Linked DNA regions of Homo sapiens: all the other regions are reported to be linked to region 2. Evidence: microRNA targets listed by miRTarBase, many of them from high-throughput screens and not tested one by one. Region 2 holds a microRNA gene; each other region holds the end of a gene's coding sequence.

What was found. The annotated mature microRNA hsa-miR-188-3p reads CUCCCACAUGCAGGGUUUGCA and lies in region 2 at 1,758-1,778, shown strand. An mRNA with a match to its seed (bases 2 to 7 or 8) in the 3' UTR can be bound and repressed. Matches are read on the target gene's strand: a 7mer-m8 pairs with bases 2 to 8, a 7mer-A1 pairs with bases 2 to 7 and ends in A, and an 8mer does both.
Region 1: miRTarBase lists TRIM35 as a target of hsa-miR-188-3p. Seed matches in the 3' UTR shown: 7mer-m8 at 2,306-2,312.
Region 3: the mRNA of RNF150 is a reported target of hsa-miR-188-3p. Seed matches in the 3' UTR shown: 7mer-m8 at 1,888-1,894, 8mer at 2,600-2,607, 7mer-m8 at 2,737-2,743 and 7mer-m8 at 3,016-3,022.

Annotation. Positions count from the first base shown.
Region 1 is chr8:27,284,058-27,288,057 of GRCh38, forward strand. TRIM35 (tripartite motif containing 35) reads right to left here. Exons shown (of 6, transcript NM_171982.5): 6 at 829-4,000. The coding sequence ends at 3,493. Among named protein-coding and RNA genes, the nearest start is that of TRIM35, 25 kb to the right of the region's middle.
Region 2 is chrX:50,001,799-50,005,949 of GRCh38, forward strand. MIR188 (microRNA 188) reads left to right here and starts at 1,705; the gene lies at 1,705-1,790. The region is part of intron 3 of CLCN5 (chloride voltage-gated channel 5); the gene reads left to right. It overlaps MIR532 (microRNA 532), which reads left to right and starts at 1,350; the gene lies at 1,350-1,440.
Region 3 is chr4:140,865,043-140,869,042 of GRCh38, reverse strand. It overlaps RNF150 (ring finger protein 150), which reads left to right. Exons shown (of 7, transcript NM_020724.2): 7 at 664-4,000. The coding sequence ends at 782. Among named protein-coding and RNA genes, the nearest start is that of TBC1D9, 110 kb to the right of the region's middle.

The DNA of each region.
Region 1 (4,000 bases), not on the chromosome of region 2:
GAAATTTCATCCCCCACAAGCAAGAGGAAGCAAAAAAGGAAATGGCCCCTGTGCACCTAATTCTGACCAACTGATACCTGGTGGCTGACGTGGACATGACTGGGAGCCTGGAGGTTACTGAGGCTCTCGTGTGCTCTGAGACTCCAGTTTCTGAGGTGCTCACACTGCTCAGACATTCAGGAGGTGGGGAGGGGCCCCACTTCTACAGATGAGAAAATAAGATCAGGCAGGCAGTGTGTGCCCCAGGAGATATCACGTAAGCGGCAGAGCCAATATGATCAGGAGAGCCAGAGCAACCAAGGTCAGGACATTCCAGTGACAACGGGCCCCTGGTGAGGGCAGGTGGCCTATTTCAAGGGTAAACAGGAGCCTGGTCCGGCTGGAGCCATGTGTGACGGGACTGAGAAGACTCCGGGTATAAAGGCAGAGTGCAGTGACAATGTGCCCTGAGAGCTGCCCTGGAGAAATGCACTGCAGCGGGTTGGAAATGGGGTCTCTCCAGGTGATGGGAACATGAACGATGGTGCATGTGGAATGGATGCAAAAGTGGGAGAAACTGGAGAACGGGGGCCTTCCCAGAGAGCTGCTGCTTTGAGCCTGGACACAGTAATGAGAAGGAGAGTGACGGGGTGAGTGGAAGGCAAGGGCAGGAGAGGGGCTTCAGGGAAGAATTAATGAACTCGTGGACTAGCGCTTCCTGCCAACAGAATAACTGCCCCATCCCTGAGCCAAAACCCCGAACTTACATGGACCTAAGGGCAGTATCAAAAGTGAGATTTCTAGGATACATGTACAACAAAAGAAAAAATAAATAAAAATTGGACATCATCAAAATTAAAAGCTTTAGTATTTCAAAGGACATCATCAAGGAAATGAAACAGCTCACGGAGAAAAATTTTATAATCATATACCAGTTAAAGGGACTTGTGCCAGGCTATAAAAGGACTCTTACAACTCAATAATAAAAAGACAAATAACCCAATTAAAAAATGAGCAAGTGATCTAAAGATAGCTGTCCTAAGAAGATATGCAAATGGCCAATAAGCTCATGAAAAGATGCTCAATATCATTCGCCATCAGGGAAATGCAAACCAAAATCACAATGAGATGCCACATTACCCCTACTAGGATGGCTAAGTTAAAAGATAGATAATAAAAAGCACTGAGGGATGTGGAGTCATCAGAACCCTCATGCCCTGTTGATGGGATATAAAATTGTGTCACCACATTGGAAAACAGTTTGGGAGTCCCTCAAGGGTTAAATAGAGTTTCATATGATCCAGCAAATCTGCTCCCAGGCATATACCAAAGAGAAATGAAAACATATGTCCACACAAAAACTCATACACAAAAGTTCCTAGCAGCATTATGTATAATAGTCAAGAAGTAGAAACGATCCAAATGTCCACCAATCGATGCATGATAAATAAAATGTAGTACTACCATTCCATACAATGGAATATTACCCGATGAAAAAATAAAGTTGAACACATGCTACAACATGGATGAACTTTGCTTATAAGAACATTGAAAAGAAAATGCCAAAAGAAAAATGAGTTTTAGCTCAAATTTTTTTTTAAGAGGCCTAGCCTGCTCAAGTTATCCTGTTAAAAAAAAAAAAAAAAAAAAAACTCTTCCCATATCTAAGGTGAAAATAAAAAACATTTTTAAAAGTTTAATATAAAGAATGAAATAATTTCAGGTCAAGTTTATTATACAGAAATTATATTAATGGGTGGGATAAATACTTTACAGGAGAGGGTCACACTCTCAGACACTTTGGCTCCCAAAGGGCTTGGAGCTTTTGTGAGGCTGAGCATCTTCCAACCAGGTGCATGCACTGGTTTGCCAACATCCTCACCACGCCCAATCCAGCCCCTTCACACACTGACATCGCCTACCTGGGCCCTCCTTGTGGCCTTAAGTTTTATCTAACCAGTGTACACAACATATTTATAACCAATTAATACGTGTGAGTCATGATTTGTTTAAAATGTCAGCTTTTGTGAACTGAAGGGGATGGGCAGAAGGCAGGATGCTGTCCTTGGTCAGGAATGTGACCCAGATTTTAACACTGCTCCTAGGAAAAAAAAATATTTCCTTTTATGATGCCACTTCCTGGGACATGATGAGCTGAAGATTAAAAACTCTTCAGAGATGTGCGAGAAAAAACAAGCCCAGGGAAAAGTCTGCAGGCATGGTGGAGGAAGAAATTAGGGATGAAATCGCAAGTGGCAGAGCAAGCATGACCAGGCTGAAGTCAGCAGAGACAAGAGGGCAGCGAGGCCCAGCCTCCTCTTCCCTCTCCCACAGCGTTTAGGGCCACGTCCATGGCGCCACCCCTCTCCTTTCTTCCCAACTGAAAAGGGTGCCCTCTTTCCTTCTTTTCTGCAGACGCTGATGAGAATTAACCAGAGGAACTTCCTCCACAGCAACTATAACAGGACATCCTCATCCAGTCCTCCTATCTCATTTCCTGGTGGGGAAACAGGCCTGGCAAGGAAATAGGCCGAAATCACGATTTAAAAAATGTTGTGTTTAAGTACTCTGGAACCCTGTGTTCAGAGGAAATCGTGCAAGAATAGATCAATCAGAGCTGATCTGATGGAGACGGAGGATCCAGCCACACAGAGGCCCTGCATTAACTGTATTTCCTGTACTCTTGATGCTCTGGTATCTGGGGCCTCGCTGACCTGGACAGACTGATCCTCCCAGGCTAGCCAATCCCCCAATCCCTAGAGATGGCAAGCATCTGGCTGAAAGCATGCCTTTCCTATGGAAACCAACTAATCCGGAGCGATGGCGCCAGCTGCCTCCTTCACATGGCTCTCCCAGGGCTGTCACACCCCAGGCCAACATTCACCTGTCCTGACTATCCCGGGGCCAGGTATCAGACAAAAAGGGCAGCCCCTATCCTGAGAGCCACTGAAATTACTCAAGCCAGCTACCCTTAAACCTGTCTCCCCTGCTTACTCTGCCTTGCCCATTTCCTCCTGAGGAAACCAGAGGAAGTCTCTTGCCCACACGTTCCCCTCCCTCCTTCCGCCTTCTGACCCACCGTGGGGCTTTCCTATGTGGCCCCTCCTCTCAGAACCGTAAGTAACAAACTCTCCTTTCCATGGCAGTCCCCTCCTCATCCAATGGCTTTACCACACCTCGATGAGATGGTTTACAACAGGCCCATTCTAGAAGTAAACATTATTCCCAGAAATCCTGGAATAGGGATTCAGAAAATTCACATTGTGGAGGTGCCACGACTCGGGAGAGCCTGGCCAGCGAGGTGCCACCCGAATAGCTCCTGACCATGGGCACAGAAGGGACCAAACATGGAGAGAGGCACAGCCTGGAGTCATGGAAAAGGACCAGGCAGGACAGGAGGAAGAGCCTGGCAAGGAGGCAGGGGCGCAATAGTGCCCAAGCAGTGTGGGCATTAGGAAGAGGGCAGAAAGAAAACAGTGCTGTGGCACAAGACCGGGGCAGCCCCGGGCCAGCTCAGCCATCCAGTTCTTCCTTGACACTGATGTGCAAGGGGCAGATGCGCAAAGGCTCTGGAGGCCCGGCGCCCCGTGCACCCCCCAGGTAGAAGTAGGGGCGAACCTCCCCAAAGCGGGCGTGGAAGGTGTACAGGTGGCAGTGGCGCTCCGCGTCATAGAAAGACAGCTCGCCCTCCTCACACTCCAGCTCCACACGCAGGCGGCGTGGGATGGCCAGGACCAGGGGCGACGTGGCTGGGTCCGAGGTCACGCAGTGGTCCCCCTCCACGCCCTGCGTGCGGCAGACATACCAGAAGCCCGAGCGTGTGTCGTGGTAGCAGCTGTGTGAGTGGCCCTCAGCGCCCGAGTCCTGGCGCACACGTACCACGCCCACCCTCCAGCTCTGCAGCCCCCCAAGGGCCACCTCCCAGGCGTGCGAGCCCTGTGAGAAGACACGGGAGCCCAGCAGGCAGGGCGCCGAGGAGAAGCGTTCCGGGTTCTCCACCTGCACGCGGTAGCCATGGTTG
Region 2 (4,151 bases):
CATTTACTCTTGAAAACCCTCCATGTAAAACTGTAACCTGCAGCACTTAAATGACCCTGGTCAAGGTCCCCAGTGTCCTTCACATTTCCCAATTTACTGGGCAATGTTGTCATCTTACTTGACAGATCAACACACAGTTGATCACTCCCTCTGCCTTGAGACTCTACCTGCTTTCCAGGATTCCACACTCATGAGGTTGTCTTCTTACCTCACAAGCCTCTCTTTCTCAGTCTCTTGATGGTTTCTCCTCCTCTTCCTGAATTCTAAGTATTAAAGAGATATAGGGCTTAGTCTTCAGACTTCTTTTTTTTTTTTTAACTTCTCATTAGTCCTCAGCTGTTCTCATCTTGTCTTGCAACTCTAAGTACCATTTTATGTGGATGATTTCTGTGTTTGTATTTCCAGCCTGGACTTCTCTCCTGAATTCCAGATGCCTATGTCCAACTATGTACTGGACATCTGCCCCGAATGTCTAATAAGTATCTCAAAACTTTAACACATCCAAAGCTGAGGTCCTGGTTTTCCTCCCCCTCTCAAAAAGCCCTACTCCTCCCTCTGTGTTCTCCAACTCAGCAAACAGCATTTCCCAATTGCATATGCCAAGGATATGGAGAATTTTAATAAGCTAAAGGTTTTGGATTCATCTTTGACACTTTTTCCCCTCCATTCTCCAAATACAAACTGCTGTCAAATCTTGTTGGCTCTACTTTCAAAATACATGTCTAATCTGACCACACAGCCACTTCTCATACTTCTCACTTCCTCTATTATTTCCACACTAATCCAGCTTTTCCCTGGGCTGACAAGTGCAAGTTCTCTTGCGTCTGTCTGTCTGTCTGTCTCTCTGTCTCTGTCTCTGTCTCTGTCTCTCTCTCTCTCTCTCTGTGTGTGTGTGTGTGTGTGTGTGTGTGTGTGTGTGGTGTGTGTGTGGACACAAAGTGGTTGGTGGCTGAGAGCTTGAGCCTCCTTTTTTGAGTCCTCTTTCTAATGACCTGCATGCCAGATTCTAAGCTTTCTTACCATCTGTTCTCGTATGTGTGTTATTTCATCTGTAAAATAGGGATAATGATCACCTCATGGATATTTTATGAGAATAAATGAGCTATGTGTGAAAAGCACTTAAAACAGTGCTCTGCAAATGTAAATACTATACTGGTGTTAGGAATAAAAATAAAGGAAAAGAAAGAAGGAAGGAAAACAAATATGTTGTAGATAGTGAACATTTCTGAAGGTACATATGTGAATGTACACAAGCACACCTTCTCATTACAGCATGTCTGGGGCACAGTCATAGAAGTCCAAGGCATCTGGGATACGCATGCACACAGTATACAGGAGAGCAGACCTCCCGACTTGCTTTCTCTCCTCCATGCCTTGAGTGTAGGACCGTTGGCATCTTAATTACCCTCCCACACCCAAGGCTTGCAGAAGAGCGAGCCTTCTCTTCCCTCTCCAGTGCATAGGCATGAGCACATGGACAGGTACACCAAAGGGAGGTAGACCCTCTCTTACGTGCTCTGTATGTGGGGTACACTGTTAGCAGCCATCCCATCTGGATGACTGTCCTGCTTCCATGGCCACTGCTCCTAGTTTACCCATCAGCACTCCTGTGGCTATCTTGCTGCCCACTTGCACCCCCCAGGCCAGTGCCTCTTGCCTCCTAGAGCATACCCATATGTCGTGCCAAGAGAGCAAGCCCTTCCCTGCTCCCTCTCTCACATCCCTTGCATGGTGGAGGGTGAGCTTTCTGAAAACCCCTCCCACATGCAGGGTTTGCAGGATGGCGAGCCTCAGCTTTCCTTGCTCTCTTGTGCATGTGTATATACACATACGCACTCCTTCACCAAAAGAAAAACACACACCCATGTGGTGGGAAGGAGAATGACTCTCAGCCATGTCCTTTCTCCCATCTCAGTCTTACATGGATCCTGCAGGAGAGGGAGACTTCTCTTAGCTTTCTCTTGCACATGGTGCAGCCCCTCATACTCAGGGATAGGCACAGCCTAGAGAAGGAAGGGGGGTCTTTTGACCTGGTTCTGTCTTAGCGGCACCTAGAGGAGGAGAGAGAACCTTCTCAGGACTCCTGTACATGGGGCATGATGAAAAGGGAGTCTTCTAGCTAATTCTCACAAACCCAGTTTGTGAGGAAAATTGTGTCTATATCATAACCATATGCAAAGATGTAATATGCACACACATTTTGGGTTCAGAAAGTAGAATCCACTCACTGTGCCATGCCTTTCCATATGCACACTTGTTTGCTCAAGAGGGTGTGTGAAGATCTGTCTTCTTAGACACTCATGTAGATATGAGTCAGATTGTGAGTTTTCTCTGTTATCTCCCCAGACCCAGGATTTGCAGCCGATTCATTTGGTGAGCCACTCATTCATTCAGCAAATATTTATCGAGCAGCTACTGTGTGTTGGGTACTCCCCTATGCACCAGGGATACACCAGTGACCAAAAGACAAGAATCCCTGCCCTAGTGAGGGGAGGCAGGTAGTGAACAAAATAAGTAAGTAATAGATAGTGTGCCAATTGTTGATAAGTGCTCTGGAGAATAATAAGGCAGGAAAAGGGGACAAGGAGTGGGTGGGGGTAGTTACAGCATAGATGGTGGTGGAGAAGTTTCGATATCAAATAGGGTAGTCAGGAAAGGCCTACTGTGTTCTAGGAACAACAAAGAGCCATTGTGGCAGAAGCATAGGGCTGGGAAGTAGTAAGTTACAATGGAAAAAGGGAAAGCTGATAATTACTATGTATCTCTAAAATCTAAGGCCGCTTTTAAAAAAAAAATCATACCATTATCACACTTAAAAATAATTACCATCCAGGCACAGGGGCTCATGCCTGTAATCTCAGCACTTTGTGGGAGGCTAAGGTAGGCAGATCACCTGAGGTTAGGAATTCAAGACCAGCCTGGCCAACATGGTGAAACCCCGTCTCTACTAAAAATACAAAAATTAGTCAGGCCTGGTGGCAGGTGCCTGTAATCCCAGCTACTCGGGAGGCTGAGGCAGGAGAATCGCTTGAACCCGGGAGGCGGAGGTTGCAGTGAGCCAAGATCGTGCCACTGCGCTCCAGCCTGGGTGACAAGAGCGAGGCTTCATCTCAAAAAGAAAAAAAATTGCCAACAATTTTTTAATATCATCACATATCTGTTGTTCCCATTTCCACTTGTCTCAGAAATATCATAAATTAGGATCCAGATAAGGTCCATGCATTGCATTTGGTTGATATGTATCTTAAGTCCCTTTGAATTATATCTTTCCCTTCCATCTATATTTTTTCTTTCCTTATAATTTATTTGTTGGAAGAAAGTGGGCCATTCATCCTATACAGTTTTGCATAGTCTGGATTTTTGTGATCACATCCCTGTGATGTAGTTTACATGTTCCTTCTCCTTGTTTGTATTTCCTGTAAACTGATAGTTGCATCTGGAAGCCTGATCAAATTCAGGCTTAATTTTGAGGAAGGGGGAGCAGAACTACTTCCATTAAGAGGCACAAAATAACTGATGATCATCTTTCTGTGATGTTAGTTGCCACCGATGCTCAATTCTTAGAGCCGTTATTTCATTAGGGGTTGCAAAATGATGATATTCTAATCCCATTATTCTCTTGATTTATTAGCTGGAATACTTCTATAAAGAAAAACTTCCCTTCATCTGCTATTTGATCACCCAGTGTTGCCGTCTTTATAGGCAAGATAGGATAAATGTTTGGTTCTCTTTATTTATCAGTACTCAGAATAATGAGTTGGTTCACTAGCTTACTCTAAAGAGGATTTTTTAAAAAAACTATTATAATAAACTCATAGATTTAAATATATTTGGACTTTTAATCCATTGCAGTTCTTGCCTTCAGTGAAGCTCCAGTGCCCCATCTTTAGCCAGTAGGAGCTTCTTCAAATTGGTTCCTCAGTCCTTTTGACATGCCTCCGTAGTTATCTGATAGCTTCTCCGCTTTCAGAGATGAAAAAAATGTACAAAGCTCATCGCAGATACCTTCCCCAGGCCTGGAATCTGCCATGTCTTCAAGAAGCCCTGGTTTCTTTTAATCAGACATGATATTTAAAGACCATATTTGCCTCTGGATTGGTCATTGTATTTAGGCTTCTACAATGATCAGAACAGAAAAATGTTTTGTTTTT
Region 3 (4,000 bases), not on the chromosome of region 2:
TGAAAATTTTACAGTTCTATATGCAATGTATCATGTACCTACCTACCTCAGTGTACCCTTAACTGTAATATTATCTTGTCTTTTTTAAAGAGTGAAGATTACATAGACAAAAAAGGATATCTTATTTTTACCTTATATTTATTGGTCATTTATATTACACTCTTCCGTGAATTGTGTAATGGTAACCTTTGTCCATTTTTCTATTGAACTGTTTTTCTTATTGATTTAAAAGCTTTCTATATGTTAAGAATAGAAACCTTTGTGAAATTTTTTGCAAATTCCTGAGTTTGATATGCCTTTTGATTTTATTTTACATGTGTGTAACATTTTAAATGTTACGCATATGTAACAATCTTTTCTTCTGTAAATTACCCAATTACTTTTCTAAATAGAATTTCTTGCCCAACTTACGGTAGATATATATTTTCCTACTAAGACATATCCTTAGATGATATATTTTATTATTCTAGTTTCTTTTGTTTGCATTTAACTTTTTGGCCCATGTGAGATGAGGCTTTAACTAGAGTTTTTACAGAATACCCAATTTTTCTAATACCTTCTCTTGGCCTTTAAAGAAATGTTATTACAAGCAATTGTACTGAAATAAGCAGCATGCAAAGACATAGCTCGGTGTTCACTGTGAACTTTGCTTTCTCCTCCCAGGTGAGCAGGAGCCAGCTGTAAGCAGTGATTCTGACATTTCCTTGATCATGGCAATGGAGGTTGGACTGTCTGATGTAGAACTTTCCACTGACCAGGACTGTGAAGAAGTGAAATCTTGAAACGACAAATCCAGAAGCAAAGAGATAGTAGGACCCAAGGGAAAGGAAGGGAAGAGTGCTCCAAGACTTGGACCAGGCACACACACACCTCCAGATCACCTTGGCAACTCCAGGGCGCTCCGTTCAAGAATGCTGACGAAAAGCAATATCCAAAGTCTTGTCAATCAGGATGCAGTTTCTCCATCGGTATGGCAGTCTGTGGCCTTGGCAGCTGGGAAGTTGAAAGCTGATTTCCACTCCTATGTCCATGTAGACATACACTTCAGAAGCTCCTAAAACAGAGACTGAAAGGCCACCTTTAGGATTTCTTAGTTTCATTTCAATTCTTTCCATGTCTCATCATTCTTGTTTTTGGCATGTTGTTTGATTTCTTTGGCAATTTTTTTAAAGATTATTTGTAGTTTACTTTCCATCTATTCCTTTGTTTTTCCTTTGATGCACTCCAGCTTTTGTATAGGTTTCTGTTTAGAAGCACCAGTTCCTGCTATGATCAGTTTGTATTCCATCTCTGAGATATGTGGTCTTGACCTCCCAGCATGAAGTGTGCATGGCTTTGAGAAGTGCCTCAGCACCCTGAAATGGACTAAGGCCAGCTTTCATTAAGAATCTAAGTTCTTCTAAGTGGGCCTTTAAAAACCCCAGCTGCCAGAGACCCCAACACTAAGCCCTAAATCTGCTGAGGCCACTGCTGGTTATTTTAAGCCACATCACACTTGCTTCCACTTGCCGGGCTTGATTAAGGGCCCACGTGACATGAGAAGGGAGCTCTAGGGAAGCCGTTTCATTCTTCTGGGTCTTACAGTCTTTGGCTGAAATTCTGAACTCAGAAGTCCCCTCCAAGGCATCCAGTCTTTGGTGGTTGTAGGGCTGGTTTTAAAACCAGATACCACATTTTCTTCCTATTGAAAACAAAATGCCAGTTGCATTGGTTTCCCCTGGGCTAGAACAGTTTTTTTCTTACCTCTGTAAGTGGGTTCTGTAAAAAATGGAGGCTTTAGAGAAAAGCCAATCATTTTTAAGTCCAATGGCAAACATAGTGGGGGCTGCAGTAGCACCTAGCTTTTACCTTAATTTCGACACACTTCTGTTGAATCTCACCAGACCATGTGGGAGGATTTAGGTGAATCCCTAGCAGATTGCTTCCCAGGGCTCCCTGAGTGTGTCCAGATACCAAGTGAGGAATGAGGTGTGATTTGCTGTATCATTTGAACCAAAAAGTATGCAGCATGAGAATTTGCTAGATCGTTTATCCTGACTGAAATAGACAAAGTAAGAGGGAAAGGAAAAGAGGTATCAAGTAAATACTGAAACCCAATGGTGTTTTTAAACTGTTTCTGTTTTTATTCATCTTTTGTAACTATGACAGAAATGTGCTATTTTTTCAGTGGGCAATTTTGTAATATATTCAGACTATCCAGATACAGAGATGACTAAGGTCATTGATAGCGTCTCTGAACAATCAGACGGATCACCTTATCTCTACACAGCTGGCAAACACCAGGCTGCGGCTTGGATTAACCAGGAAAGAAAGCTTTTCTCACTGAGTTGTTTTTATGTATTGATGGGGACTTTTCCACCTCATTAGACTAATACTCATTCAAAAAGAGTTTGGTTCTGCTGTAAATCCTTGCCGCCTGCTGAAACATGGTGTGCAGGTCAACGGAGAATACTAGCTGCTCCTTTTTCACCACCTTTACCAATTTCCTATTTGATGGTTTGTAAGTAGACAGTAAGGCAAGGCAGATGATTATTACCCTCAGAAAGGTTGCATCTCCCTAGGAGTCCAATGCTTCCTGTAATGAAATCCACTCTCTATGTGTGGGAAAAGAGGCAGGGAGGAATGAAGAGAGCTCTGAATCGAGAATCCTAGATGAACCACACGCTTTACTAAGCCTCGGCTTCTTCATCTATAATGTGAAGGGTTTAATAACATGAGTCCCCAAGCTCCTCTGGCTGTGGGACCACAGATGAGTCTTTCAGAGGCAGGATCCATTTTTGCAGATAGCTATGACTTGTGGCAATCAGGCTTCGTAGCTTGGGGAGGTAGAGTTACTTGACATGTATCATGTAATAACAGCCTTTGAGACTTGGCACAACTATGGTGCTGAGAATGAAAATCTAAATGATTGAAGTTTTAAGTCCAAGTAGGAGTTGGTTTGTTTTGCCTTGTTTAAAAATTGCTGTTAGTCACAGAGTTTGCAATCTCTGGATACCTTCAAATCCTAGCTCTCACTGTGGGATTCTTGATCTCAGAGGTGTTTATTTTTCACAGTCAGCATAGGCTTGCGCCACTGACTCCTCCTTCAGTCGGCTTTGCCCAAAACAAATTTTAGTATTACTGGTATTAAGTTTAGTCCAGTGGAATTAGAAGGATAATTCAATAGCAACAGAAATATAAATTATATTCCATTCCCAGAGAGAGAATGCGCTTTGGATTGTTTAGTCCTCTGATTAACGAGTATTTTCTCTTCCTGCCAAGAACTAGGTGAATCAGGAATTGATTGCATATGCAAGCCCTGGCCACAGCTGCACTTACAGGATGCCTCATAGACGATGAGGGGTCTGAAAGGCCAACCCGAGGCTGGCAGATCTGACCCCAAGGAGGTCCTGCTGCAAACCCCCTGAGCCTTTGCCATTCACTACTTACCAAAGTTTGTTTCTGGAGGATTTTCCTGTAGCTTTGATAGTTTAAAAAAAAAAAAAAAAAGAAAAAAAAAAAGCTTAACCAGAAAGTTTCTCTTTCAGAAGAAAGGGGAACAGCCCTTCCTTATAGCCTTCTTTACCTCCCCCAAAGAAGAGACTGACCTGGAGACCTGGTAGTCTACAGATGAGTGTCAGAGGGTGTGTGTACCCTCTAGAAGCAAATGCAGACTGTATGTGTATTTGCAGATGTGCATTTTTCTATAGCAAGAGTCTAGACTAGCACTGTCCAACAGAAACGTAATGCAAGTCACAGACATAATTTTAAATTTTCTACTAGCCACATTTTAAAGTGTAAAAAGAAACAGGTAAAGATAATTTTAATCATGTACTTTAACCTAATATTGTTTCAACATGTCACTAATGTAAATTAATGACATGTTTTACATGCTTTTGTGTACTAAGTCTTCTAAATCCATTGTGTCTTTTACACTCACAGCACCTCTCAATTTGGATAGTCACATGTGGCTAGTGGCTGCCAATTGGACAATGCAGGTCTAGAGTTCCTCCAGTATTCT